3 separate regions of the Homo sapiens genome follow, and regions 1 and 2 are each linked to region 3. Evidence: fine-mapped expression QTL. A gene starts in region 3. Each other region holds a variant in brackets. All regions are shown on one strand. Distances are between the middles of the regions.

Region 1 (10,450 bases), 150 kb after region 3:
ACCCCTCCCCTGACCCTGGGCATGAGGACTAAGCAAGTCCCCCAAAACTCAGTTGAAAAGGGACCTGGAGGGACTTCTGCAGTGAGTGTCCAAACTCACATGGTCCGAAGAAGCACAGGCAAGGATCATTCATGTCCCCTATCCTGGGCCAGGCTGGGAAGGCCACTGTGCCAGGCCTGGGGCAGAACCTGTGAGCTGCACCCACCACAAGGGCAGGCAGTGGGCCACTGATCACCACACAATGCTCCTGTGATGGCCCAGGGGCTGCCTGCCAGGCAAAAGAGGGCAGCTGGGTCCAGACCCCAGGTGCGCAGCCCATGGAGTGAGCTCAGTGGCTCTCCCTGCCTGGAATGGTCTGGTACCAGAAAAAAAAAAGTTTATAGAGTTAAAAAGGTACAGTAAGGTAAGGTTAATTTATTGCAAAAGAAAGAAAATATTTTTAATAAACTTATTGCAGCCTAAGTGTACAGTGTTTATAAAGTCTCTGGTAGGGTAGGTCATGTCCTAGGCCCTCATATTCACTCCCCACTCATCACTGACTCACCCAGGCAACTTCCAGTCCTGCAAGCTCCATTCACGGTGAGTGCCATATACAAGTGGACCATATTTTACTTTTTTTTTTTTTTTTTTTGAGATGCCCAGGCTGGAGTGCAGTTGTGCAATCCTGGCTCACTGTGACCTCTACCTCCCGAGTTCAAGTGATTCTCCTGCCTCAGCCTCCCAAGCAGCTGGGATTACAGGGGCGCACCACCACTCCTGGCTAATTTTTGTATTTTTAGTAGAGATGGGGTTTCGCCATGTTAGCCAGGCTGGGCTCGAACTCCTGACCTCAGGTGATCTGCCCGCCTCTGTCTCCCGAAATGCTGGGATTACTGGTGTGAGCCACCATGCCTGGCCTTATTTTACCTTTTATATTATATTTTTACTGTACCTTTTCTATGTTTAGATACACAAGTACTTACCATTGTGTTCCGATTGCCTACAGTATTCAGTTCAGTCACACGCTGTGTAGGTGTGTAGCCTAGGAGCAATAGACTATACTTGTATAGCCTAGGTGTATAGTAGGCTATACTGTCTGGGATTGTGTAAGTACATTCTATGGTGTTTGCACAGAAATGCCTAGCCATGCGTTTCTCCGAACATATCCCTGTCATTAAGTGATATATGATTGTATAGTTTTGTATCTGTAATCGTACACATACAGTATAAAGCAGTTTGCCTTAAAATTACACTTACTTAACGCATGGCTATACAATTTTATAAAGCATTGATTTTGTTTATAAACCCCACAAACGGCCGGGCGCGGTGGCTCACGCCTGTAATCCCAGCACTTTGGGAGGCCAAGGAGGGCAGATCACAAGGTCAGGAGATCGAGACCATCCTGGCTAACATGGTGAAACCCTGCCTTTACTAAAAATACAAGAAATTAGCCGGGCATGGTGGCGGGTGCCTGTAGTCCCAGCTACTCAGGAGGCTGAGGCAGGAGAATGGTGTGAACCCAGGAGGCGGAGCTTACAGTGAGCTGAGATTGTGCCACTGCACTCCAGCCTGGGTGAAGGGTGAGACTCTGTCTCAAATAAATAAATAAAAATAAACCCCACAGACTTCCTCCTTCAGCTTCTTCTTCGACTGGTTTTGAGTATATTGCTTGATAATATTACTTTGGTTCTTCTATTTTTCTTTTCTGACTGGCTTAGCCCTTAGCATAAGCCAAAATCACTGAACAAGTTATATCCCTGTTTCTCTAGAAAACTTGATTGATAATTGAACTATGATTCAAGAGTTCTAAATATTGATGGGAGGAGAAGGCGGAAAGTCGCAGGCATCTCTAAGAATCTGATGAAAATTCACAGCTAGTATGGCACTCTCAGGTGAGATTTTTGTCTCATTAAATGGGAAATAGCTTTGGGGTACTGGCTTGAGTCAACAGGGTCATATGAATCAGCTGTAAATTGTCACCTGGATTAGGTCAGAGGGGTCATAGGTATCCCTGGACCTTGAAATAAGGGCTCTGTCTTAGGGCAGTCACTCATCTCTTTGAACTTCAGTTTCTCAAAATGAGAATGACAATGATGAAATTTGCCCTCTGGAAGCAATGTCCTGAGGTGCTAGCCATCCATTTGGAAATCTGTGTTTGCTTGTGTGCACAATCAAAACAAGTGTAACCTGTCTGTTCCACTGACTCTTCAGAGGTTGCTTTTACCACTAGGACTTGTAGTTTAGTTTACCGTTGGAGTGCTTTATTTAAACTCTAATCTAGTTATATAAACACACTTCAGCACAATTTATAGGCTTGCGATTCTTTCTATCATGCCTGGCTCTTCTTTTTTCTTCTTGAAACAAACTCTTGAGTCTAGACTTTGTCAGGTTGATACATGAGTTTGGGGACTGTTTATATGGAAACCATATACATATTCCAGAAGCCTGCCTTGTTACTGATCTGCAATAAAGATGATAACCCTTTGACTCATAAAAAGACACCCAAGATATCCTTTGAAGTGCAAACCCTGATCTACTACTGAAAAGGGGCACAAAGAGATTCCTCAAAACTGGCCTTGTTGCTTTAAGAACAGGTGACTATTAATGAGAGAGCAACTCTATGGGAGAGAACTTTCTCATGATACAAACTGTTAGCAATGCAAGCAGCTGGAGAATCTGTAAACAGTGACTTTCCTCCCGGGGGAAGTGCTTAAGCAAGACTGATTGACCATCCTCAAGAAACAGTATGAAAGGGATTCAATCAATCAGTGGGAAAGAAGATGGATTTGTAGGTACCTTTCAATTCAAATATCCTGTCTTCGATTTCTCTAATAAGCCTAGGAAGACAGGATTGTGCTAATGACTCAGTCCTAAGGAATAGATCCTTGTAAACAGTGAATGTGGCCACCCTACCATTGGTGATGTAGTGCAAGTGATGGGGGTATATGTGTGGTAGTCCACTGGGTGTTTTAGGCCAAGTATGTAGTCCAAAGAACACATTTCTAAACTTTTAAAACACAGACAAATTATACTCAAGAAATCAATGCTCAGTGACTGTTTCTTGCCACTGCAGAAAATAAACTAACATAGAAATGGCCAAACTTTACTTTGCCAATCTGTCATAGACTACAGACTATTAGGAGGGGGATCTCAGTAAAGGTCAGGCCTAAAGCAATGAGGAGAGAAGGGGAGCTCTTGGTCCTTCAGAGAGGACCGATATCACAGCGTGATGACAGTCCAACTAGTACCAATGCACATGAGAAGCAAATCAGTTCCTGAAGCTTGATGCTATATATTCATCAAAAATAAATCTGAAATGCATTACCTGTTCTCTTCTGAATCTCATATGGATCAGTATCTGAAGAGCAATAAAGTTCAGGAGCTGTGTCTTCCAATACAAATGACTATATGACTATAAATATAGATAAACATAGATATAGATCTAAGGATATATGTACATATATTATTTTGGCCAATAATTTCTTCTCTTTCAACTACCAGAAAGTAAAAACATAGAGATAAAACAGTGGTGCTTTTGTTACTTCTTTCTGGGTTTTACTGTTGTTATCATTTTTCTTTTCTTTTGTTTTTTTGAGACAGGGTCTTAGTTTATCACCCAGGCCAGAGTGCAGTGGCGTGATCACAACTCACTGCAGCCTTGACCTCCCAAGGCTCAAGCGATCCTCCCACCTCAGCCTCCTGAGTAGCTGGGACTACAGGTGTATGCCACCATGCCCAGCTGATTTGTGTATTGTTTTTGTAGAGACAAGGCCTTGCCATGTTGCCCAGGCTGGCCTTGAACTCCTGGACTCAAGCAATCCACCTGCCTTGGCCTCCCAAAATGCTGGGATTACAGGTGTCAACCACTGCTCCTAGCCTTCTTACTATCTCCTGTGTACTGATGACTCACATCCTACTATGGAATAGATACACTGCTTTTGCCTTCCCAGCATTGAATCCTCTTTGTCTAGAAACGACACCTTAGTTTTCCTTTGGGGAACCACATCACTCTACGCTTGAGTGATTCTGGTGGGACAAACCCCATTGCTGGCTCCAGATATGAGCTAGTAACCTAGGTATGCTGATATGGTTTGGCTGTGTCCCCACCCAAATCTCATCCTGAATTGCAATCCCCTTAATCCCCATATGTTGAGGAAAGGACCTGGTGGGAGGTGATTGGATCACGGGGGCAGTTTCCCCATGCTGTTCTCATCATACTGAATGAGTTCTCATGGGATCTCATAGTTTTATAACCATCTGGCATTTCCCCGGCTTGCTCCTCTCTCTCTCTCGCTTGCTGCCATGTAAGACGTGCCTGCTTCTCCTTCTGCCATGATTGTAAGTTTCCTGAGGAGTCTCCAGCCATGCCCAACTCAGTCAATTAAATCCCTCTTCTTTATAAATTACCGAGTCTCAGGCATTTCTGGATAGCAGTGTGAAAATGAACTAATACAATAAATTGGTACCAGACATAGGATACTGTATAAAGATACTGGAAAACGTGGGTGCCCGGCGGTGGCGTCAGGATCAGCGTCTTCATGTCGGGGTCGCTGCTCCGCACCAGGGGCGGCCACCAGGGGCTGCCGGCCGCCAGCGCTACCTTGGCTAACTTGCGCACTGTTGGCCCATGGCTGGGTGGCGTGGGCGCGGGCAGGGCGGATGTCCCCAGGGGCGCGGTGCTGGGTCCCACGGCCACGGACACGCTGAGCAGGAAGCTCTGCCGGCTCGTAGAGGC[G/A]CCCAGCGGCTTGCCAGCTCGCGTATGTAGCTGCCCAGGGGCGCTGCGTGTGTCGCCAGCTCACGCAGCGATAGTTGGGTGGGGGATAGCAGCAGCCCCTCCAGGCCAAAGCGCAGGAAGTTTTCGGCTGAGCCTGGACTTGGGAAGCCCAGGAAGAGCACGCTGCGCCTGCGCGACAGGAAACCCACACCAGCCATGGGCGAGAAGGCGCGGTGCACTGGGACACTGTCAAGGCAAAACTGCAGCATGTAGCGGCACACGCTGCCCACGCGGCCGTACACGCAGCGCGCCTTGTGGACGTCCCAGTCCTCGCCGGGCACAGGCGTGAGCAGTAGTAGGTGTAGCAGCTGTGGCAGGACTTGACGTAGAGGCAGGCGTTGAACATGGTCTCTGTGTGCCAGCAGCGCGCACTGGAGCAGGTCATCAGGTCGTCTTCGTCGGCACTGGGTTCCGGGGACATGTCGGCCACCTCTCCCGGGGCCGCGGGCTCCTGGACGATGCCGGCGGAGGCTGGGGGCGAGCGTGGCGGCACCAGCGCGGGGGCCCCGGAGCCCGCGGGCCGCGAGTCCAGCAGTTGGCACAGTTGGGGGCCCAGGCAGTGGGTTGTGGGCTCTGAGGCCTGGCTGGCAGTGGGTCGCAAGTCGATGACCAGGTCCTTGATGAGCTCGTACAGCTGCTCTAGGATCCGCTGGCGGCCAGAGGTGGGGCCGTCGGGGGCCGCATGGGGAAGTGGCCGCGTGCAGCCCCCGGGCAACTCCCAGGCCCTGGTGCGCGCTCGGTGGCGTGCAGGTCATTGTCAGTGATGGTGATCTCGGGCATCACGTACCAGTTGCGGCCCGGGCCCTCACCCGCGCGGCCCTTCTCCGTCAGCGACGTGTCAGACAGGGACAGTGGGGCATAGCGTCTGGGCGAGGTGGACAGGTTCACGACGACGGGCGGGCACCAGCCTTCGGGGGACACGCCTCGCGGCTCCCGCACCTCGCGCCCAGCAGGTTCTCATAGCTGCGGCCACGGCCCAACTGGTCTCCGCACGGCCCGGGGCCAGAACGTTGTCCCAGGAGCACGAGTAGTGGCGGCTGTCGGTAGCCAGCCGGGGTGGACTGGTGCCGGTGCCGCCATGCCAGGAGGCGAGCAACGGGTCGGGGTCAGAGGACTGCACCACTTGCAGGGTGCGGTAGGGTCGCAGGCCCCAGTCCGCCCAGGCTGGGCTGCTACGCTGGTGCGGGTACGTCCGAGCCAGGACGTCACGCTCACGGTATTTTCCGAAGTCCTCCGTGTAAAAAGGGCGGGCGGTGGAGTGGGCCCGGGGCTCCTCAGGGACATAGCCGGGCCCATAGGGCAGGCCGTAGGCTCGGGGAGCCTCCCCATAGTAGGAGCGGGAGGACGGTTCCTGGATTGGGAAGGTGCCCACCTCTCCCGCGTAGTAGCCCCCCATGCACCTTGGACTGGGCCCTGGGAGCTCCTCCGACGGATAGGGCCTGGGGCAGTAGGCGTCGAAGGTTGGACCGGGACTGGCCGCAAAGCTGCCCCGGAAGCCTTGGGGCTCCTCTGTATAGAAGAACTGGGTGGGGCCCGGAGGGGTGATGAAGGGCAGACTGCGGCGCTCGGCGTAGTCCCGGGGCCCAGGCAGGGGCCCGTCGCAGTAGAACGCCCGGGGATCCGCACAGTATGAGTCGCTTGGCGTCGGGGTGTGCGACAGCGCCATATGGAGGGGCCCGGGCACCGTGAGGCCGTGGAACTGCGGGGCGGGGCGGGCCCAGGGCGCGGCCTCGGCGGGCCCGCAGGACCGTGAGCCCCAGGCGGCGTGCTGGAGCACTGCGTCGTCTGGCTTGATGTCCGGAAGGAGCGCACGTAGGGATAGGGACCCGCGGGTGGCTCGGGAGGTGCGCGGCGGCCCGCGGCGGCGCACAGGGGCGCGATGTGGCCTGGGCCGCCCAGCTGCGGCTGCAACTTGATGGGACGCAGCTAGTTGGCAAGGGCGCGGCGATGCCTCGGCCCGCGCCGCACGCTGGGCCTCCCGCCCTCGGCGGGGCAACACGGGCGGCAAGGCGGGCGCGGGCGTCAGGCCCGGGGGCGCGCTCTTGGAGCGGGCGCGGCGGCGTGGCTCGGCCTCGCGGGTCCGGGCGCGCGGCACAGCGGGCTCCGGGGGCGGTGGCTCCGGCAGGGTCTCCGTGGTCGGCCGGTCCAGCGCCTCCAGGAAGTCGAAGCTGGGGCAGTGGCGCTTGTTGAAAGGCGCGGGCTCAGCAGGCCGGGCCACGGATCGCTCACATGGCGAGCGCTTGGAAGCGGGTCCCGGGGTCGCCACCTTGATGTCCTGGTACACGGTCGACACCAGCAGGTCCGGAGCGTCCGTACGGGTCATCTTAAAAGAGGTCCTCAGGCTGGCGGCTCCAGCTCACACTGCCTTGCGGGGCTTTTGCCCTGGGGGGAGATGCGGGTCAGGGCGGCCCCATCCGCAGCCCAGGCCCCGCTTCTCCCCCACGCTGGCCCGGCTTACCTGGGGCGCAGCGGGCGGAGCAGCCCTGGCTGCGGGCCTGGGCCGAGAAAGCGGGCGCTTCCTCCATGCCGGAGTCAGAAGCACCTGCGGGAGGAACCCAGCTGTCCAGGCGCCCGTCCTGCCCCTCCCCCATCCTCTCCCTGCGATGGGGCGGGCGGGCCAGAAAGGCTTAGTGGTGGCTGTGGTTCCCGCGTGAAGCTCCAGGGCCTCCCCTCCCTCGACTAGTGACCGCGGGGCCGGCTCGGGCGGACCCCTTTCCGGGTGGGGTAGGGGAGTGGGGGCGTGGTCCTGGGGCTGCACCCTCTGGTGTCCGCAGCTGGAAGGACGGACCGCATTTGGGCCTTATTTATAGGTGTTGCCCCAGGAGACGTCAGTGACTGCGCCCCCGTCACAGGGCCCACTGCAGAGCGACCCCTCCGATCGTGCACAGTCGAAGGCGAGTCCCTGGGCCTCAGCCTTAGCCGGCTCTGCACCAAGTGGGTGACACCAACTACCCCACCTGCTGGCCGGGCCGAGCACAGAGCCCCGCCCCCAGCACTGCAAGGACCCACGCCTAGGTGCCCTCAACTTCCCGTGAGCCCCAGGCCAGAAAAATGCCCCCAGAGAGCATACCTGGGCCCTAAATCTCCCTTTCCTTTGCCGACACCTTTTCTGACCCCAAGTATTTTTGGGTGGTTGAAACAAGGCCCCAGCTTTGTGTAAATGCACAGGACACCCCCCTAGGGTTTGCACGGCAGTCCCAAACCATCGAGCCACGAGCTCGTGGCAGCCCCTCTCCTCTGAGCTGCGCAGCAGGCCCAGAAGCTGCCCACTGGGGGTGGGCAAGGCGGAGGGTGGGGGAAGCCCCACTGCTTTGCAGGAGAGGGCCCTCCCCATTTCACTCAGAAGGTTCCATGGAAACCTGCGTTTCTTAGGCCCCCACGCTGCAGGCTGGCCAGGGTTCAGATGTGGGTTGCCAACCCCTCTGTGGTCCCAGAGCCAGCTGGGGGATGCGTCAGAGAGTGGCCACAGGCCTGGTCTCTGCACGCCCAACACCTGGTCTGGGGGGGGGGTCTACCCCAGAGTGAGCTGGGGAAAGCGGGTACCTGGCCAGGCCCCTTGCAGGGCAGAACCTCAGGTGAATGGGCCTCTCAGGGTCTGGCCGGGTCCCCCCTCTGTGTCCCAGGTGTGCAGGGGCTTCCTGCTGGCAGGGCTGTTTTTCTGGGTCAGGGCCACGAGTCCCGGGCCTTGTGCCCATCCCAGCCTCCCCCGCCCACCCCATCTCCCCCCTCCATCCCACCCGTGGCAGGACTGTCTACCCTCTTGCTCCCTCTTTCATGCTAAGCTCAAGGCCAGGCCGGAATCCGGCCGGATGACAGGGTGTGAGGCTCCACCCCAGGGAGGTGACAGTCGGCCTTGCTGGCTGCAGCTGTCGGTGACACCCCCTCCCGTGGGGATGGGGGTGGGGTCAGCACTCTCCTGGGCCCAAGGCCTTCTGGAGCCCACGGGGATGGCTGGCGGCCTTCCCTGCCTCCCAGCCCTGCCTTGCCTTGCCTTGCCCTGGCTGGGAGCGGCCCTTCAAGGGATACAGCTGGTGTTGCCTGGGGACGGGGAATCCTCATCCTTCCGGCCTCCCTAAGGCAGCCTCCCCTGCCCATGACAGTGACACACTCAGCAACTCGGCCCCTAGCCCCTTACCTGGGTGCTGCTCCAGCTGTGCCCCGGTGGGCTGTGCTACCCCCAGGTCGACTCCTCCTTGTCCCTGGCACTGCTGCGTCTCCCCGGCACCAGCAGAAGTTTCCAGGCAGCAGCGCGGGTCCTGACCTGGCTGCTCAGTGCTGCCCCCGATGGCAGCTGAAGGGGCTGTACTTAAAGGGGCCACACCCAGTGGGGGCTGCATGGTGGAGCTGGGGATCGTGAGCTGCGCTGGCTCCAATTTGGGGATGTGCAGAGCACAGGGTCCCTGCAGCACCCCCAAGACACAGACCTCAGTGTCTAAGCAGGAGTCCTGTGGCCCGGAGCAGCCTGCCAGTCCCGCCAGTGTCACCCCAACACACTTGCCTGAGAGGAGGGGCCCAAGCCCTGGCCTGGGCTGCAGAGATTGGTCAGGGGCATCTTGGAATTCGCATCTCCTGTCGGGCGAGGCAGGAGCAGGTGGGCTACTCTCTGCCCCACTGGCCTCTCCCCAGCCCCTATCGGCTTCAAGGCTGCCAATGCCAAAATCTTGGCGGGTACCTGGGGCCAGATGGCCCTTGCAGTCTCTTGTGTCCCCAGGATGCCATCCTCTCTGGGTGAGGCCACTCCTGCATCCAGTGTCCCTGCCAGCCTGGGAAGGCCTGCACGTGACCTATCATACCTGCCTGGTAATGTCATCGTCCCACTCTGCCAGCCCCTCCCAAAGGCATTGGGCCTGGGAACATTCTAGCTTGGCAGAGGGGTGGGGAGCCAATGCCCTTGGCTCTGAAGGGCAGGACCTACCCCATTCTGCGCTGCTCAAAGCAGGGCCCACTGAAACCCCAACATAGCCATCCATGGTGCGATCCTGGCAAGTTCACGTACTGTTGACCCATCCCCACACCAGGAGAACCCCTGAACCTGGCCCTGACCTCATGGGCTGTGGGCTAAGGGGCCAGGCTCCTAAGCTTGCTGTGGGCCACAGCACCTGCTCAGGGACTGCAGTGATTGCCCCACACCCTGGGGCCACAAAGCTCCCAGGCACAGGAGCCTCCAGCTTGGCCACCTCCTCCCCTTCACTGGCACGCTCTTCCTGCCCGCCCTGCAGGGTTCTCATGGCAACAGTAGCTGTGGGGGTGGAGGCTGGGTGCTGCTGACAGCTGGAGGGGGCAGGGGCCTGAAGGCGGGGTTGGGGGGGCAGGGCTGCAGGCAGCTGCCTGGGAGCCTTGCAGAGTTGACTTCCACCTCCTGGGGCTGAGGTCCCCAAGTGTGCTGGGTGCAGCTGCTGAGCCCTGGCATAGGTGGGCTGGGATGTACCCAGGGTGTGGCCAGACTTGGTGGGACGTCCTCACACCACTGCTGGGCAGCCTCCTGCCTCAGAGGACTTCCCTGCCAACCCATGGCAGCCTGGGCCGGGGAAGCGGGAGCAGAGGTGCAGGGAGAAGAACGGACACGCAGAGTGAAACAGGAGTGCTTTATGGTCTGAGTGGAGTGTTTGGGAGGAGTGCCTCCCAGATCCTGCCTGTGGGCTCACCTGAGCGGGGGCACAGCTGAGGCCACTGTGGGAAACACAACCCCCACTCCCA
Region 2 (9,273 bases), 960 kb after region 3:
GTGGTGGATGGAGTTGCACTGGGGAGAGAGTTCTTTCCTGGGCTCCATCAAACAGCTGGAACAAGGATGAGACATCAAACCGTCTGTCTTCATGGACAGAGGCAGCCATCTGTGGCATTTACATCATTTTGAAGTTGTGGCCTGCGCCTTTCTGAAAACCAAATCCCAACAGTTCTTCTGTCTTCTAAAAGAAATTCCTCAGTAGGAAAAAGGGCAAGAAGGAAGATCTGCATAAACGAAGACCTCCAAGCTGCAGGTCACTAGAAAAGTGATTGCAAAGTTTCCAAGAAAGTCCTAGCTTGGACTTAGACCTTGTCAGAGGACATGGTACCTGGATTTAGCTCTCAGGGAAGGTGCAGTCAGTCCATGGTCAACTGCATCCCATCCATGCCGCTCCCAATGCCTCTCTGCCTTCCGTTGACAAACTCAGCAATGGGCGGAGATTGCCCTCTCTGCCACCTCCCTGTTAGCTATTAAGGAACTGGCTTGAAGCTGACCCAATTGCCTTCTCAAGATGATCCGAATAAATAATGGGAAGGGAGAGGTGTGGGCTGGGAATGGTTGCACATGGCTTGATTTGTGGTGATCTTGAATAAAGATGGGTAGGGAGCAAGAGGGAAAAATAGAAGAGAAAAGAGATGTGATTGCTTTACATACTGGAGAAACATGTACAGAAAGAGGAGAAATGGAAGCAAAAAAGGAAAGGTGGGGAAAAATAAGAGGAAAGGGGAGGGAAAAAGAGACAGAGGGAGAAAGGATAGGAGAAGAAAGAAGACAGGATGAGGAAGAGCTGTGTGTGGAAATAAGTGGGACTGGCAGGACGGTTGTCTAGGAGTGGAACCAGAGGGAGGGAGTTTGGAGCTACCGTCTGCTTTGACTGTAGACACTGATGAAAATGTGATGCTTTAAAGGCTTCAGTGACAGTGCTAGGGTCCCTACAAGTGCCCACTGAGCCAGGGGCTCCACCTCAATTTATGCTTCTCTTAGACCAGTGTTCTCCAACTTGTGTGAGCAGCAGAGTCAACAGAGGGCTTGTTAACCCCAGATTGTGGGCCACACCCTCAGAGTCTCTGATTCAGGAGATCTGGGTTGGAGCCTAAGAATTTGCATGTCTAAGAAGTTCCCAGGTGGCGCTGATGCTGCTGTTCCAGGGAACACTCCTTTGAGAATTCTGTCTCAGCCGTTAAAGACTAAACCAAGGTTGGTGCTGATTTGGACGCCTCGGGTCAGACAAGGTCAGTGAGTGAGATCAACATCTCAGCTGACTTGCAGAAGCAGATTGCAAACACTAACATATAAATTGAGAAAGTGCTAAAATCTTTTATTGGATGTATTTGTCTCTTTCTGGCTCTTCATTCAACTAACCATATGCTTACTTTCCACTGGCAATTGCTATTTAAATGTCAGTTGACAAGCAGATGCTTCTCACCCTACTACATGCAAGTTAATTTATTGTCCACAAAGCCTGATGGAGTGCTCTCTAACCATGCTGGTTTCCCACTGTCCCCACCCACCCTTTTGTTGCAACCACGCTGAGCCTTGCAGCTCACAGAAGGTAAGTTGCCTTTGTGTTTCTCCATCCCCTGCTCATGCCCTGTCTCTGCTGGTGCTGCCCTTTTCCAGGCTGACTCTTACTCTCCTTAACTTTCTGTGTGAATGTTCTTGCCTGTGGGAATGTTTATCCAGCTCTTGTTGCTGCAGTGTTGTTCGGCTCAGACCATTCTCCTAGCCCTTAGAAAACCAGGCTGGGGCCACCTTGTACAGCTCAGCTTTGTATCATCAGTCCCTAGGACAGGATCCTTAATAGGCCCCAGCCATCAAGAAGCAATTGCCAAGTAAATAAGCAAAGTACAGAGAACTTGAATGGGGGGATAAAAGGGGGATAAGGGCTGGGGGCTGGTGGGGAGGTGGAGATGTCTAACCCTTGCTCACTATGGTCAGGATTAGAGAGAAATTGAAAAATAGAGACAGGAACAGGCAGGAGGAGGACAGAGCAGACATAATAATCACAGAAATCCTAAATCATCATCAACATACCCCTGCACCCTCAAGGCTTCAATGATTCCATAAAATGGGACTCCAACAGTAAGTAGAAAAGCTAATATTGGGAATTTATTTAAATTACACAAAATATCTTTGCTTGGGAGGTGATCAACTTTCCAGATATTTTGTGCTTAATACAAGCTAAGTATCCATTTTTAGTAGGTACTTATGTAAGATGGATGGACGGATGAATGGGTAGAAGAGAGATGATAGATAGACAGATGGAGTCATTGTAGGCTAGGTCACCAAGTCATGACCTGAAGTAATATTTTGTTTTAATCTTCTTTGGCTCCCTTGGGCTGGGACTTTACCTTCCTTTGAGCAGGAAACGTTCTCCAGAGTTTTGCCAAATGCCTGTTCTTGGAGGACCCGCTTCTAAAACTGAAGCAAGACAGTGCATAGGAAAGGTGTTGTATAGACATGCCACTTGCTGCATCCCATGCTGTCAATGGTCAGCACTTGAGTCTAAAGCTGGAAAAAAACCCTAAAATTACAGTTAAAAAAAAATAATGGGCTTGCTTGGCAATCGAGGGTA[GAATC/G]AATCCAGTGTTCTAAGTAGTATGACCACCCTGGCCCCAGGAGATCTTGGGCAAATCACTTAACCTCAGTTTGCTCATGTGTAAGACAAGGGAGTTACAAGGCTGGTCTCAAGGTCTCCTCTTGATCTCCTGATCTCTAATGACTCTAAGATGGAATTCTGGGGAACACACTAGTAGTTACTTTGACTTTAAAGGTTAGAGGGGAGAAAATAGAGCATGGTGTCAGATACATCAATGCCACCATGTCCCAGCCTGCAGAGCTTAATGCACTTAAGATGAAACCAAGCAGGCTGCCTCTAATGCTGTTGAAATGTCAGGCTTCAGTGCAGGGTGTTGTTAGACATCTGCATTTCTTCTGTTTTTTAAACAACATGACTCTGCCAAGAATGAATCTGTGTCATCATCTAATGGCTCTTGTCATTTTAGTGTAGTGATCAAGGAGGAAAAATGAAAGTACTTTATGTGGAAAACCAGATAAGAAGGTATTTCATAGCCCAGAGTGCAAGGCTGTCTGGAGTATAATACAGATCTATCAGTAATTCAGTTAAAACAGTTTACCTGCTTTACATGAGTGGGTTCAGTTCATTGATCTTCATTCAAGTTCACACTAAAGTTATTTAACTGTGGGCTGCACATTACACCACACAGACCAAAGAATTATAGATTTTTTCCAGATGTGATATACAAATCCAAATTGTGATTGCAGCCAAACATGCATTTAGTCAAATCTTTAATACACTCTATTAGGGCGTGAATAAGACTTTAAAGCTTTGTCTTAGCCACAGGGTAGCTGGGCTAGAGTAGAGCCAATCGCAAACAGCCAGAATAGAAAGTTACCTTGGGATGCAGTATTTATTCTCAACGGTGTATCATCTAGAACAACAAACTTTTTTTAATGTAAAAATGAGCAATTACTTGTCATTATAAAATGACAAATTTTACAAGGGGTCAAATTTGGTTTTCTTCCCCTGAGAGGCTCACCTCCATTACCGTGCTCACTGGTACATGTCTCATGTTTGTCATTGGCTGTACCTGTATGCCTAATGCTCCATTTTCCTAGAGCAAAACTATCTTTCAAAACACAGGAAGAAAAGCGCCAGCCATTTTCCCCACCTCCAGTTGAGGCAGGGGAAGTTTATCCCAACAGCCCTGCCAAGTAGTTGGCATGATCTGCATTATTCTAGGATAGCTAGGCAAAGTTTAGAATGAGAAATGCAAAATACATCCTTGTGTTTTCAGGATTATATAAGTTTTAAATGATTTAGAGTTCCCTTATATGGAAGGCTTTCTAGGAAAAGACTGGCTAACCCTGTTCCTCGCTATAGCTGAGAATGCATACTCAGAGATTTAATTCAGCATTGGTTGCATTGTAGTGTAACAAATACAGGCTATGTGGGAGGTTCCTTGGGGCTTCCTTGGTTTGATATAACTCTCTGGAATGTGGTTGTTAAAGGGACAGTTGGGGGAATGGGAAGAGGGGGAGCCTTGCTGCTCTGGGGAGGGGCTAGGAAGGATTCTTTTAGTGGGTGCTGTCCAATACTGTAGACACTAGCCACATGTGTCTCTTCCCAACTGAGGCATACTGTAAGAGTAAAACCTATACTGGGTTTCAATGACTTAGTATTAAAAAATGTAAGACATTTCATCAATAATTTTTATATTGATTGCATGTTGAAATTACATGTGAAATAATTATTTTGGGAGTGTATCGGATTAAACAGCAGTATTAAAATTGTTTTCACCCATCTCTTTTTCTCTTTGAATGTGGCTGCTAGAAAATTTAAAACTACATATATGGCTCACATTCTGTATTTCCAGTGAACAGCACTGTGCTATATCCATTTTACATGGTGGAATTATGGTGTTTACTTTCTTGCTTGTGTTTCTGTATTTTTCAAACTGAAAGTATGAATAGCAAACAATATTGTGTTTTGAGAAAAAAATACACAGCATGGATTTTGGAGTCTGGCAAAGATGTGTCCTAGCTATTGCACTTGGGCAACTAACTTTCTCTGAGCCTGCACTTCCTCATTTGTTAAATTAAGAGAATAACTATTTTGACCTCACCAGGTCAAAGCTCTCCAGGTTGTTGTCAGGAGTGAGAAATGCATGGGAAATTAGCAGAGTGCTTAGCACAGAAACTGGCTTAGGAAAAACTCAGTAATAAATATTCTGCATTATTATAGGTTATTTCAAAACACCCATCTGGTGCACAATATGAAAATCTCTGCATTTCTAATTCAGGTCTTTGTCTCTCTTGTTCTACAAGTTTGTTCTTGCTATTATATCTACCTACTTTTACACCCAGAAAACCAAACTTCCCCTTCTTTGCCTCATCATTGTGACTCTGAGTTGGTTTTCTGTTACTTGTTCACACTGAGCTTCTTCCCACTTATTTTTGACTTCAGAGCAGGAATTTTATCCTGGCTACAAACAACACCACAACTCTTTATCTACCCCTGCCTTTGCCTTGTACCTGGAGGCTGGGTCTTGCTTTTTACTGAACTCTGCTGCTTTTGATGGGATGATCAGTGAAGGACAGTTGACACCAGGCCAGTGCATGTGGGAAGCTGTCAGAAGAGTAAGGGTCATGTAAACAACAGATCAAGAGAATGAGGAGCAAAGACAGGGCAGAAGAAAAGCAATGTTATCATTCTCTCCCCTTGTTTCACAAGCCTGCCTTATCTTCTCATTGCCTTTGTCTGTTGGCTTTAAAAGCTGTGCTATGTTCAGCTCATGGTTAGTACAAGGTGTTTCTAATTGCCTTTCTGGATTCTCACCGCCTGAAGTACAACCTCCCATGGTGTAGCACAGTTCACATCTAAAACCGTGCAATTTCCATATTCTGGGCAATAACTCCTCAGATGAAGATGGTTGTACATGTTCTCTGAAATTCAGTGACAGGAAAGAGAAAAAAAATGCAAAACTTTGTGAAAATATGTGGCTTCCTCAGGTATGGTCTTTTTCCTAGTTCTTTCACAATTAATGAGATGAGCCTCTCAATCAGAGCTGGATGAGATGCAAACAAGGAGCAGGAACTTAAGATGAATTTGGAATAGCACAAGTGGCTGGGAACACCTGTACTCCTCGAAGTGGGAGAAAAGTCCCGGATTTCTTATGTATTTTTTTAAAATCAGAAATTTTTGTTGTTGCTGTTGTTGTTCCTATCCAGCATCTGTAACTAGGTGATTCAGAATAAACTCTTGAATTAAGATGGTATTTTTTTAACCATTTTTTCATCAGATCAATATGTTAGTTCACTTATTTTAGTTTTAGATTTACTGGATGTTCTCAGGATAGCAAACTCAAAGGAAAAAATAAACAAATTGGCTTATATTTCAAAGTTTTAGGCTGGGAGTTGACAGGAGAAACCTGTGGAAATTAACAAAGGAGAAGAGTTTCCAAGGCCTTCCTTGCTCACATATGGATTTGTGGAGGATTTGAACACAGCTAGGGTCCCCTCCAACAGCAGGCAAGGAATACTCAGGCCAGTGCATACAGGAGGCTCAATTCTGGATGTGTGAATGTGGCTGTTTTTTCCTGGAGCATTTATTTATTGGTTTATTGAGACAGTTTCACTCTGTCAGCCAGGCTGGAGTGCAGTGGCACATTCGTGTCTCACTGTAGCCTTCACCTCCTGGGCTCAAGTGATCCTCCCGCCTCAGCCCCCAAAAAGTATCTGAGACCACAGGTGTGTATGTACCACCATGCCTGGCTAAGTTTTTCTTTTTTTGTAGAGATGGGGTCTTGCTATGTTGCCTAGGTGGGTCTCAAATTTCTAGGCTTAAGTGATCCTTCTGCCTTGGCCTCCCAGAGTATTGAGATATCAGGCATGCGCCACCATGTCTGGCCCCCATTTATTAATAGAATATTTACCATGGGTCATAGGCAGGAAGCATTCATTGCCAACTGTCACTTCCCTAGGGTTTCTAGAAAATCAGAAGATTGAAAATGTGAGTAAATGTTTCTTACTACGATTGAAATGTAGGAGAGGAAGGAAGCATTTCTGAAAATGCAAATCCTGCTTTAAGGTAGCAGCTCTCTACAGGGGAATTTACTGTGGGTGTCTTGGCTCCTTACGAAAAGAGAGAGCAAATGCTTCACAGATCCCCTGATCTTCCTTTGTTCTTTTTTGCTTTTGTCACTGTAACTAAACTCTCATGATACCTGTGATTTCAGTTGTTTGTGGTCTATGTAGCATCTTTATCTCTGTCAGTCAGAATTGCAGAACTGGTGGTGGTTACTTAAGTTGGAATACAAATATGTGGGCATGCAAACAAATGTACATGCAGTAAACATTTGATCTACAGAAGGGCCTTTGAGTGGTCTCTTCTCTAGGGCCTGATTGCTTCTGGGCTGTTGACAGCACAGCTCAGTGCTGCAAAGGAAGGGAACATGTTACTGGCTGAACTAGAAGGAAGTTTTATATTTGCCATCTCTGAATAATTCTTTTTCCCCACATGAGGGATCTAAAAGTGTCTGAAAAGAAACACATATGCTGTTGCAGATATGAGCATCATGATTATAGGTGTGCATACCTAGTATGTATATGTCCAAAAAACATTCTTGGCGACAGGCTATTCCTGACTTTGCTTCCCCTGAAACTGAATGCAAAACCAGTGTCATTAAATATGCTGCTTTGTTGCCAAAGGGACACTTCTTCCATTTGATTTAAAAATATCACTAGGTCTTCTTTGTGCAGACATCCTTTAAAATACAAACACTGCTTTATCTAATGCAGCTATACTGTATGTATACATCTTTTTCTTTAAAACAAAAAAAGACAAAACCAGATTTATGGATAACATGAACTGCTTTCTGGATACGCAAACAAACACCAATGAAAACATTTTTTTAAAATTAACAGACATCAACTGGTATAAATACACTGTCTAAAGCATTTAATGGTCTTTCTTTAACACAGCCAACTCCCCCGGGTTTGAAACAGTGTTAAATTCTCTCTTGCTTGTGGCAAAAGAAGCTGTCAAGTCCAACACTGAAAAATTGGTACCATTTCCTGGCCAGTAAGCACAGAACAGAGGGGCTAAATATTTTATGGTTTTATTCATTTACTGTGTTCTCATGCTGTGTTTTTCTTTTCTCTGTCTCTCCCTCCTGCTCGTGTCTGCCCAGGGCTGATTGTTGTGACATTGGCCGTATGCTGGATGCCCAACCAGATTCGGAGGATCATGGCTGCGGCCAAACCCAAGCACGACTGGACGAGGTCCTACTTCCGGGCGTACATGATCCTCCTCCCCTTCTCGGAGACGTTTTTCTACCTCAGCTCGGTCATCAACCCGCTCCTGTACACGGTGTCCTCGCAGCAGTTTCGGCGGGTGTTCGTGCAGGTGCTGTGCTGCCGCCTGTCGCTGCAGCACGCCAACCACGAGAAGCGCCTGCGCGTACATGCGCACTCCACCACCGACAGCGCCCGCTTTGTGCAGCGCCCGTTGCTCTTCGCGTCCCGGCGCCAGTCCTCTGCAAGGAGAACTGAGAAGATTTTCTTAAGCACTTTTCAGAGCGAGGCCGAGCCCCAGTCTAAGTCCCAGTCATTGAGTCTCGAGTCACTAGAGCCCAACTCAGGCGCGAAACCAGCCAATTCTGCTGCAGAGAATGGTTTTCAGGAGCATGAAGTTTGAATGTCAAGCGAGGGAGCCTTGAGTGGGAACTGGCCCTCCAGCCCTAAGAAAACGTCACTCTCACTCTGCAGTCTCAAACTATGCCCCCATCAGGGATGGAATGGACACTGGAGGCTTTACAAAAGGCAGATGCCCACCTCAGTGACTTCTAAGGACTGACTCTGCCAGCCTGGCCTTGACTCCGGTTACACAGACATGGGGGTGAACTTTCACTCCACCTCCTTCCTTCAAGTACATACTGAAAATTCAGTCAGGCTGAATTTATTCAGAATGCTTTACCGAGCTCTTTCATTATTTGCACAGGAACAAAAGAGAACACGGACTCCCGCTCCCTACCCAGAATAAAAGGACACCCAGAAGAAACTCACTCAGGGAGGTGGGGGGTTGGGGGCGAGGGCTGGAAGAACAATGCAGGAGGGGGTGGCATCTCCTTCAGCTTCAGCAGTGTGCCGAGAAGAGGGCTAATTTGAGGAACAGGATGGTGGTGCGGAGCCCTGGCCTGAGGGCCGAGGCAGAACTTCCCCTTTTCTTGGGCCTTGGCCCGTTACAAAGAGGGGTGTTGCAGCAGCTGATGCAAACTGAGTTCAGTTTCCCTGGGGAGCAGAAGGACTGGTACCCGGCAGAGGCGATGAGACAGGCCGCTGATGATGCACAGGACTTGCGGTACATGATCCCTGTAACACAGACCCAAAGGAGCTGAGTTAACGTGCACCGGCAAAAGAATAGCTGTCCCTCTCAGCCCAAATCCAAACGGACAGCTCTTCCTTACTCCTCCCACAGCCCAGAGACTAGGTGAGGTCAGGGAAGTGCTTCGGATTGTCTCATTGATATTCAAGATAGATGGTGAAAGAGACAGGCACTATTTCATTAGTTTTAACAAAACTGTTCCAAAAGCGATTTGAGATGCCAATACCTGTGAATACCTGTTAATAAAGAGCTGTTAAATAGACTTATTTACATTTTAAGTCAGAGTTCACACTGTGTACAAGACACAGCTTTTTATTTACTTTGTTTTTGGTTCAAACTGTCTCATGCCAGTGAGGCCCACAAGC
Region 3 (10,450 bases):
TGAGTTCTTTAGAAATTAAAATAAAAATACTTAAAGTATATTAAATATCATAACACTGTATATAAAATATAAAAACCTTACCTTACCCTCCTCCCTCCTCTGATCTTTTGTGCCATGTTGTCATAGATTTTTCTTCTGCACATGTTGTAATTCCTGGAGGATGTCATTAAAATAGCAATTTCCCCTCCACATGTTTACTATTTTTGGCACACTTTCATCTTTTCTGAGAACTAGAATTTCCAATTGTTATCATTTTTCTTCAACCTGAGCAGCTTTCTTTTGCATTTATTGTGGTTTGGGTGTGATGGCAACACATTCTCTCAGACTTTCTTTAATTGAAAATGTACTTTTCTCAACTTCAGTTCTGAGGGCGGCTTCAGCAAGTTCAGAATTCTAGGGACACCTTTGACTTTGAACAGCATGAAGTCTCTGCTCAGCAGTGCTGTAGGCACCATCTAACATATTGTTATATCTAGTTGTGTCAAATCTGTCATCGGCCATAGAACGCTTTGACAGGTGCTTCTTGTTGCTTCAGTTCTAAGTATTTCATAGTTTTCAGAGATATGGAGAAGCAGCAGTGCTAGTAACAGTACCAGTAAAACCAGGATAAGCCCTAAAATAATTAAGAAGCCATCGCATGCACACACGTGAACGTTTGACTTCAGCTAAAATGCTTTCAAGTGTACTATTTTATCTTTACACAAGGTTATAATACAAATTAAAGATTTAAAAATATTTTCACTTTATATATGTGAAAACTGCAGCTCAAAGAATTTAAAAGACATGATTGAAATCCCATAACTAGGTAAACATGGTCAAATCTGGAGCCCTCATGTCTCGGTCCCCCCACGCCCTGTTACAGAGAGTGCGAGGCTTCACCAGGAAGCTCTTTCGGCTCAAGGATTAGCTCTGGGGAAGTGCTGCAGGCAGGCCTGCTTTGCATCCTTTTTCCAGCAGAAATCCTATGTTTGTTTCAAGCTTCTAGTTCTTTTTGTTTTGTTTTGTTTCTTACCAGCACGGCTCTGGGAGTTATTTACACAACTTAATTTTAAGAGAGACAGTCCCCATCACTAAGGTTCCTTGGAAACTTATCATGCAAAAAAATAAAAATAATAAATGCTGGTAGATAAGCATACAAACCACTCAGGAGAAAGACAGTGGCCACTCAGGTCATCAGGTGAACTTGTGACGGGGCCATCAAGAGGCTGCACGTGAGCTCCAGAAAATGAAATTCCCACTATCAACCTATTTTCCATTTCCACCCAATGCCCCGCCCCTGCTCCAAATCAAGGTTTCCGCCTCTTAGAAATGCTTGATTTTCAGTATTGCTAAACAGGGGTCAAAGAAAACAAGCTGAACAAAGAAACAAATAAAGCCTTTAACACAGTGAGCAAAGACACAGCACCCACCCCTTCCCTGGGCCCCGCAACAGCTCCAGAGCTGCGCAGCTGCTCCCAGAGCCTGAGCATGGACCTGAGCTCTGGCCCATGGAGCTCACCAATGCATTTCTTCCCTCTGTGTCAAAAAAGCATCAAGAAATTGGATTCATTTACCTGGGACATAAAATAAGGTATACCTATAGTTTTGTCCCAGAACTGTGTAAACCGGCATGCTGCCTGCCACAGTACAGTCCTCCCCCTGCATCAGGAGCTCAGATGGGGGAAGCCAGCAGGGCTGGAGGCCTGGGAGTCACAGATGCTTGGAGGGGAGAGAAAAGCACCACAGAGAGCCAGGCAGGACCTGCCTACAAGTCACATTTTTAGGGGTCTAGTGGTCTGGGCAGGCTGGGAGATGCTCTCTAAAGGGAAGGCAAGAAATATTGCCCCACATCTCCCACCACCAAACAGAAAGTGCAGGTGGTCAGCCCCAGGGCTCACCTGCCCTTTGCCAGGGTCATGAGCTAGGCCCAGCCTGCACCCTCCACACAACCATCAAGGGGACTTCCTGTCAGGCTGGGACAACTGCACCGGGCCCTGATGCCCTGGGAAGAACAGGGTTGCATTTAACAGAAACAGCTAAACCTGAAGGGATGAGCTTGCCTTTCCCCAGGGCCATGGGATGGTTTATAGAAAGTTCTACCCATCAGGACGAGACCTCACATGACACCATCAGAGGAATTGATACCATGCCATAGAGGGAGGAAGAGGGCGCATGCCATAGGTCCACTGGTCACAGCACACACATGCTCCTGGGAGCTTCAGACCCAGCAGTTTGGCTCAGGTGCCAGGTCAGGATGTGGGAGGACACAGTGTCTGGGTGAATCTGTCACCCTTGCTAGCTGCCTTGTCCCACCAGGTAGAAGATGCGGCAATGGGAGCACAGCAGTAGGAAGCCCAGTGTCCCCCAACCTTCCACCTCACACCCAGGACCTCTGAGGTGCATCTATATCCTGCACATCTAGGCTCTGAAAAGCAGGAGGTCCTGGTTTCCACAGCTGTGGGGCTTCTAGACAGGACAAGGCCAAATTCTCTGAAAAAACAAGCTCTGGGTGCTGCTTTGTCCTCAGGCTGCTCCTCCATGGGACCTGCGGGCAGAAAAATGTGTACCACCTGGACCGTGGTTTCAGCAGAAGCAGGGTTATGCTGCCTGGGGCAGGAGGGGCTCTACACAAGCGCCTCTCAATACACAGCATTTGATGGTACGTGGACAAGTGTGGGAGCCCTAGACCAAGGACTCCGTGGTGAGCAAGACTCAGGACCCCTTAGGGGTGAGGGCCTGGGTTACACCACCAGGGGGTCACCCGGACCCTCAGCAGAAGGTGGAGGGGGTGGTGATCATTACCTTTGTGACCCTGCAATGGGTGGCAGCCACAGGACATAGGGTTCATTGAACGCACCTTGTGTAACTATTGCCCAGGAAAAGGCCCAGAATTTAATAAAGATGAGGCCCCTGGCAGTGAAGTGCTGGATGAGGCGCACCCCCTGGGGCATACCTGAACCTCCCCCAGGGCCTCGGCTGTGAGCTTTGATTATAGACACACCTGTGCCACAGCCCCTTCAGACTGCTCCCTTCACCTCTGAAAAACCAGACAGGATGCTTCTGTTCCTGGAAATGTGAATGCCCTTCGTGTGTTTTTTACTTTGACTATAAACTCATCTGCAACCAAAATATAGACTCCCACACAATAATAACGGGAGACTTTAACACCCTAATGTCAACATTAGACAGATCAACGAGACAGAAAGTTAACAAGGATATCCAGGAATTGAACTCAGCTCTGCACCAAGCAGACCTAATAGACATCTACAGAACTCTCCACCCCAAATCAACAGAATCTACATTCTTCTTAGCACCGCACAGCACTTATTCCAAAATTGACCACACAGTTGGAAGTAAAGCACTCCTCAGCAAATGTAAAAGAACAGAAATTATAACAAACTGTCTCTCAGACCACAGTGCAATCAAACTAGAACTCAGGATTAAGAAACTCACTCAAAACCACTCAACTACATGGAAACTGAACAACCTGCTCCTGAATGACTACTGGGTATATAACAAAATGAAGGCAGAAATAAAGATGTTCTTAGAAACCAATGAGAACAAAGACACAACATACCAGAATCTCTGAGACACATTTAAAGCAGTGTGTAGAGGGAAATTTATAGCACTAAATGCCCACAAGAGAAAGCAGGAAAGATCTAAAATTGACACCCTAACATCATAATGAAAAGAACTAGAGAAGCAACAGCAAACACATTCAAAAGCTAGCAGAAGGCAAGAAATAAGTAAGATCAGAGCAGAACTGAAGGAAATAGAGACACAAAAAACCCTTCAAAAAAATCAATGAATCCAGGAGCTGGTTTTTTGAAAAGATCAACAAAATTGATAGACCGCTAGCAAGACTCATAAAGAAGAAAAGAGAGAAGAATCAAATAGACGCAATAAAAAATGATAAAGGGGATATCACCACTGATCCCACAGAAATACAAGCTACCATCAGAGAATACTACAAACACCTCTACACAAGTACACTAGAAAATCTAGAAGGAAATGGATAAATTCCTGGACACATACACCCTCCCAAGACTAAACCAGGAAGAAGCTGAATCTCTGAATAGACCAATAACAGGCTCTGAAATTGAGGAAATAATTAATAGCCTCTCCCTGGGAATGGGCGGGCCTGGGTCCAGTCCACAGGGCCCCTCGTGGGCCCTGATGAAGGAAAGAGTTGAGATGGGGGCAGCGCTGGACCCCAGGGCCCCTGCCTGCCTCCTGGAGAGCCCGGTGACCCAGGCAGCCCTGGTGAGGCTGTGGGTGCCTGGGCCATAGCGAGGCCCGCGAGCTCCCACAGGACAGATGCGGACAGTGAGGCCGGGGAGGCCCTGCTGCCCTCCGAACTGTCCCTCCAGCCCCCAGCTTTCTGTGGTTCTCTGGGCCCCCTCTGCAGAGGGGCAGGGGAGCCCACCCTGGATCCTGAGACGCCAAGCTTGAGGGACCCCCAGAGCTCTAGCGAGGCTGCTTCCTTTGCGGATGGTGAAGCTGAGGTCCAGAGGAGGGCAGGGGCAGGTCCTGGGCGCTCCCTAGGCAAAGGGAGCCGATCTCCGGGAGGCGGTCACAGGGAGCGCTCCTGCGACTTCTAGGGCCCGAAAGCTGGGGAGGATGAGAGACCAGGGGCCTTTCGTCGTCCCCTGGGCTGGGCAGAGGCTCAGCCTGTGCCGCAACCCTAAGCGGCTTCTGGCAAGTCCGAGCCGCGGTCCCTTTAAGAGGGGGTGGAGCTTCAACCTGGCACTAGGGATGCTGCTAGCGTGCGTGTCCCTACGGAGCTGAGACTGCAGTTCCTGCGACGCCCCTGCAGCAGCAGCAGCGTGGTCAGAGCGAGCTTCTGAGCGGTGGTGGGTTCCATGTGATGGTGGAGTAGGAGACAGGTCTCCGCGGTCAGTGGCGGGGGCGTGGACCCCACCGGGAACCCTCCCTGCTCCTTCCCTGCCTCTCCCTGTTTTCGTGCCCGCACTTCTTCGTGGGCATCTGGGCCCGAGTCCTCCGCTTGGGGGCGGTTGTGCGGTCCTGGCTACTGCAGCGTCCGCACCCCGGCCGGGAAGGCTATGCCAATGTCCGACCCGCGTCCAGCGTATAGGAGCGCCCTGGCCCACAGCTGGCGGTAAAACGCGGGACCTGGGTCCCTCGGAGCCCCAGGGGCCTCTGAGCTGGAGTCTAGGATTATTTTTGATGCCTCAGCACCTTTAAAAAGAGACCTCGCTAGAGCAGGGGGCATCTGTATTTTCAGTTCTTTGAGGAGTCTCCAGCTATTTAGCTGTTTTCCATGGTGTGTATCCTAATTTTCATTTCCACCTACAGTGTATGAGTTTCCCTTTCTCCAAAACCACACCCGCATTCCTACTATTTTTGGTTTGGGGTTTGTTTTGTTTTTGTTTTTGTTTTGAGACGGAGTCTTGCTCTGTCTTACAGGCTGGAGTGCAGTGGCGCCATCTCGGCCGACTGCAACCGCTGCCTGGTTTTAAGCAAGTCTCCTGTCTCAGCCTCCAGAGTAGCTGGGACTACAGGCGCCGCCACCATGCCCAGCTCATTTTTGTATTTTTAGTAGAGATGGGGTTTCACGATATTGGTCAGGCTGGTCTCAAACTCCTGACCTCAGGTGACCCACCTGCCTCAGCCTCGCAAAGTGCAGAGATTACAGGCATGAGACACCGTTCCCAGCCCCTCCTATTTTTTTAAAAAAATCAAGGAATATTCGATAAGTGTGAGATTATCTGTGTGTGGTTTTGAATTACAGTTTTCTAATGAATAGTTGATTTTGAGGACCTTATCTCTTATTTGTTGTTCGATTTTATGGCTGTGCAGAATTGTCTGTTCAGGTTCTTTGCAAAATATTAGATTGGATGCTTTTGCTACTTTGTAGTGTTTTTTGTGTACATATTAGATGACAACTCCTCGTGAATTACAAGATTGCCTGAAATTTTTGCCTAATCTATAGGATGCTTTTTTAATTGGAAAGTAGTTTTCTTTGATGTGCAGAAACTTTTCATGTTGATGTAGTCAACATGATATTTATTTTTGCGTTTCATGCATGTAATTTTCGTCACCCATATAAGAAAATAATATGTCAGTGACAAAGCATTTAATTGTCAATGAGGTTTTTCTTCCAGGGTGTTTATTTTCCTCTTTGCAAAGGTGAGCAGAGATTCAAGTGACCCAAAATATATGCTCATCCTGTGTTTTAGTTAAAAACATTTTGTAGTTTATGGTCTTTTGTTTTGCCTTCAATTTGGGGGAGTGGGTGTTCATTTTCATACATCGTGTAAAATAAGGTCCTATTTCTCGCTTCTGCATCTGGATATCATTTTTGTCAAAGGTATTCATTCTCTGCCTTCCACATTGCAGTGTTCTTTATCAAAGTCAGTTGATTGTGTCCATATTTGTGTTGATCATGTTTTTGTCCTCCCTGTTTTTGTCCATAGTTTATGCAAGTATCATATATCAGCTGTATAACTACAACTTGGCAGTGTAATTTGATATTAAGGATTGTGGGTCTTCACTTTGTATTTCTCAGGATTCCTTTAGATATTCATTGCTTTTGTGGTTCCCTGTGATTTTTAGCAATACGTATTTATTTCTGTTAACTTTTTTTCACAACATAAAGGTCCATAATTAGGGGTACATTTTCATACATACAGATTGGGTAATGATCAAATCAGGGTACTTAGGATCTCTATTTGCTCATCCAGGTTTTTTTTTTTTTTGTGGGGAGAACATTCAAAATTCTCCCTTCTTACTCTAGAAAAATATGATATTGTTAACTCCAGTCACCAGGCTGAGGAGGAGAACCTCAGATTTGTTCCTTTAATGTTAAGATAACTTTGTTTCCATAATCAATCCTTCCCCATTCCCCCTCTATCTCCCAAACTCTGGTAACCAATATTGTGCTTTTTACTTCATTAAGATAAACATCTTAAGATTTCACATGAGTGGTATCATGCAGTGTTTTTCTAGGCCTAGCTCCTTACATTTAACATAATGTTTTCCAGGTTCATCTGCGTTGCTCTAAATGGGACTGTTTCATTATTTTGATGGCTGAAGAATATTTCCTAGTGTATGTATATGAGAGTTTCTTGATCTCTTTATCTGTGGATGAACAGGTAGGTTGAATTTACACCCAGTAATGGGACTGCTAGATGGAATGGTATTTCTTTTTTTCCTATTCTTTGCAAGACCTCTAACTGTTTTTTATAGTGTTAATACTAATTTATGTTTGCACAAACAGTTCCCCTTTCTGGCAATTCATACCAGGAATTGTCTTTTTAAATATTTTGATCTTTTTGTAATGTTCATTCTATTGGAGTGAGATAAGATCTGAGTGTGGTTTTGATCTGCATTTTTCTCATGAGTAGTAATGTTAACCACGTTTTTGTAGACATTCGGTCAGTTTCCTGTCTTCTTTGGAAAAATATCTAATCCGGTTATTTGCCCAGTTTTTGTCTGGCAATTGTTCTGTTGTTTTGTTATTTTTTTGCCAGCTGGTAGTATGACTGGCTTGTACCTTTTCAAAAATAATCCCTTATCCCAAACTTGTAATTTTTAGTGTGCCTTTTTATTTTGTTTATTGTTTCCTTTGTTGGTCACAAATGCTTCAGCTTGACGTGGTCCCACATGTGCATAATTTCTTGGTGGCTGTGCTGTTGGTTACTAATCAAGAAAAAACAAAATCACTACCAAAGCAGTCCCTTGTCAATAATTTTTTTCCCTTGTATTTTTGTTTACTTTTTGTGAACCCTGAGCATACATCCAAGTTGCTCTAAATATACGCACACCCGAGGTTGTCTTTATAGGAGCTTTATGGTTGCAAGTTTTGTGTATAATCTTTAATCATTTTGAGTTGATTATTGTGTATCTAGTACCATAAGGGTCCTGTATTACCCTTTTGCATATGGATATCTAGTTTCGGAAGTCTTCCCTGTTGTGTCATTTTGGTGGTGTTTTGAAAAATGTGTTCATTCCATATAAATTTTTGTTTATTATTGAGCACATTCATTTTGCTCACTGGTCTGTGTTTCTCTGTCTATGCCAGTAACATATGGGTTTGTTAACTACGGATTTTCATTTAATTAGAACTCAGGGAATGTGATGCATCCCGTATGGTTTGTATTTCTCAGAATAGCTTTGGAAATTCAGGGTGTTTCACATTTCCACATAAATTTTGGCATTGTTTCTTTATACTTCCTAAAACACTATTTGTCATATACTAAATGTATACAATTAGAAGGTACAAGGAAGGTTTTCATACATGTATATGTTGAATAATGATAAAATCAGGTTATTTAGCATCTCTTCATCTCATATAGTTATTATTTTTGGTAACAACATTCAGAATCTTTCCTTCCAGCTACTTTGAAATATATGATACATTTGTGTTAAGGCTAGTCACGCTGCTGTGGAATAGAAGGCCAGAATTGATCACTATCATCTGAGAGTAACTTTGTACCCATCACTGATTCCTTCCGAGACTGCCTCCACTTCCCCAGCAGCCTCTGGTAAGCCCTATTGAACTTTCTACTTCTAGAAGATAAAGCTTTTTTCAGTCTACATGTGTGAGATCACGTGGCATGGGACTTTCTCTACCAGGCTTATTCTTTGGACCTTGTTCTTCAGATTTCTTCATGTGGCTGCAGATGGCAGGATTTCCCAAAGGTTTATGGCTGCAACATATTCCGTGGTGTATCTGTACAGCAGTTTCCTCATTCCTGCAGCTGTGTTTGAACAGGTAGGTTGGTTCTCTACCTTGGCCACAGTTAAGAGTGCTTTAGTACCCATGGGAAGGCAGATAGCTCTCTTCAACCTAGGGACTTCAACTGCTTTAAATGTGGAACCAGTGGTGGGGCTGTTAGCTGACATGGTAGTTGTACTGTGAATTTTTTTCAGAAACCTCTAGCTGTTTTTCATAGTGTGTATACTAATTTACATCCCCACCAATAGCGTTTAAGAGGTTACCTTTCTGTAAGTCTACACTGGATGTCACCTTCAAAAATTCGTGTTTTGTTTTTGGTAGTACTCATTCTGAGTGGAATGAGACAGAATCTTAGTGTGGTTTTCATGGACATTTTTTTGTGAGGTTTAGTGATGTTGAGAAAGTTATTTGAGAAATCCCCACATTGCTTTCCATGGTGTCCGAACTAGTTTGCATTTCCACCAACAGCAGACCAGCATCCCTCCTCCTCTGCCTTGCTGGTGTTCATTCTTGTGGACTGTGTCATAATTGTCATTCATCAGAATGTGTGAAATACTATCTCATGGGCCTTTTGCTTTGCATTTCTCTGATGATTCCTGAGGTAAAGAAATGTCTTGTCTGTTGGTTGCTGTAAACCTTCTTTTGAGATGCATGTTTTCATGCCCCTTACCCTTTCTTCATTGAGTTTTTGTTTTTCTGATTTATTTGCTTAATGTATTTGAAGTAGATTCTGGATATTAGACTTCATCAGATGCAGATGTGGGAACATTTTCTCCCATTGTGTAGGCTGTCTGTTTACTGTGTTGGTAATTTCTTCTGCTGTGCAGCAGCTCTTTTGTATATTAGGCCCCACTTGTCAATAATTGTTTTAGTTGCAATTGCTTTTGGGGACTTAGGCACAGCCATGCTCTGCCAAATCCTCTGTCAAGAAGGGTATTTCCAAGTTCTCTTGCAGGCTTTTCATAGTTTGAGGTCTTGCGTTTACATCTTCATTCATCTTGAGTTAATTTCTGTACAGGGTGAGACACAGGGGCCCACTGTTTTTCTTCTGCAACTGGCTAGCAGTTTATCCTGGCACCATCTATTGAGAGGAGGGAGTCCTTTCTCCAAAGCTTATTTTCGTGGATTTTTTTGAAGATCAGATGGTGTTAGGGGTGTGGGTTTACATCTGGGTCCTCTAATTTGTTCCACTGCTCTGTGTGAAATGGGGTCCCTAGCTTTTCAATGAAATTAAAAATCAGGAAGTGTGACACAACCAATGTAGTTTGGACTTCTCAGGATTGCTTTAGAAATTCAGGGTGTTTTGTGGTCTGCATGAATTTTAGCATTGTGTATTTACGTATTTTTTAAAAGGTTGGCCATATAGTAAAGGTATACAATGGGGGGAGTTAGAGTGGGGCATTTTGGTTAATGCAGACATAGAGGAATGTTAAAATCAGGATATTTAGAGTCTCTGTTATCACAAAGTTGTTAATTTCTTTATGGTGAAAACATTTGGAATCTTCTTTTCCAGATTTTGTGAAAAAGATGTGATGTTTTGTTAACCTCTGGTCACTGTGCTGTGGAACAGAGAGGAACAATTCATTCCTCTCATCTAAGTGTAATTTTGGACCTATTTCTGATCCCTGCCCATACCCCTGCTTCCCTCCAATCTCTGGAAACCACTGTTATGCTCTCTAGATCTATTGCAATAAAGCCTTTTATTTTGGGTTCTACATGAGTGAGATGTGGCAATGTTTTTCTTTCTCTACCTGGTTTAGGTCATTTACC

What was found. PIP is the estimated chance that this variant, and not a neighbour inherited with it, causes the effect.
Region 1: its variant is fine-mapped to the expression of LINC03124 in whole blood (INTERVAL, PIP above 0.99).
Region 2: its variant is fine-mapped to the expression of LINC03124 in lymphoblastoid cells (CAP, PIP 0.95). The same link has a PIP of 0.9 or more in lymphoblastoid cells after a statin.

The regions. Positions count from the first base shown.
Region 1 is chr2:131,823,061-131,833,510 of GRCh38, forward strand. It overlaps the pseudogene LOC647996 and the pseudogene LOC100859919. Among named protein-coding and RNA genes, the nearest start is that of LINC03124, 150 kb to the left of the region's middle. The variant G/A (reference allele first, on the strand shown) is at 4,715.
Region 2 is chr2:132,637,386-132,646,658 of GRCh38, forward strand. GPR39 (G protein-coupled receptor 39) reads left to right here. Exons shown (of 2, transcript NM_001508.3): 2 at 7,716-9,197. The coding sequence ends at 8,221. LYPD1 (LY6/PLAUR domain containing 1) reads right to left here. Exons shown (of 3, transcript NM_144586.7): 3 at 5,901-8,895. The coding sequence ends at 8,660. Among named protein-coding and RNA genes, the nearest start is that of LYPD1, 28 kb to the right of the region's middle. The variant GAATC/G (reference allele first, on the strand shown) is at 2,579.
Region 3 is chr2:131,677,726-131,688,175 of GRCh38, forward strand. It overlaps LINC03124 (long intergenic non-protein coding RNA 3124), which reads left to right and starts at 4,774. Exons shown (of 10, transcript NR_167889.1): 1 at 4,774-5,263; 2 at 6,984-7,094; 3 at 8,339-8,486; 4 at 8,605-8,716; 5 at 10,441-10,450. RefSeq lists an enhancer at 4,207-4,326 and a silencer at 4,697-4,746.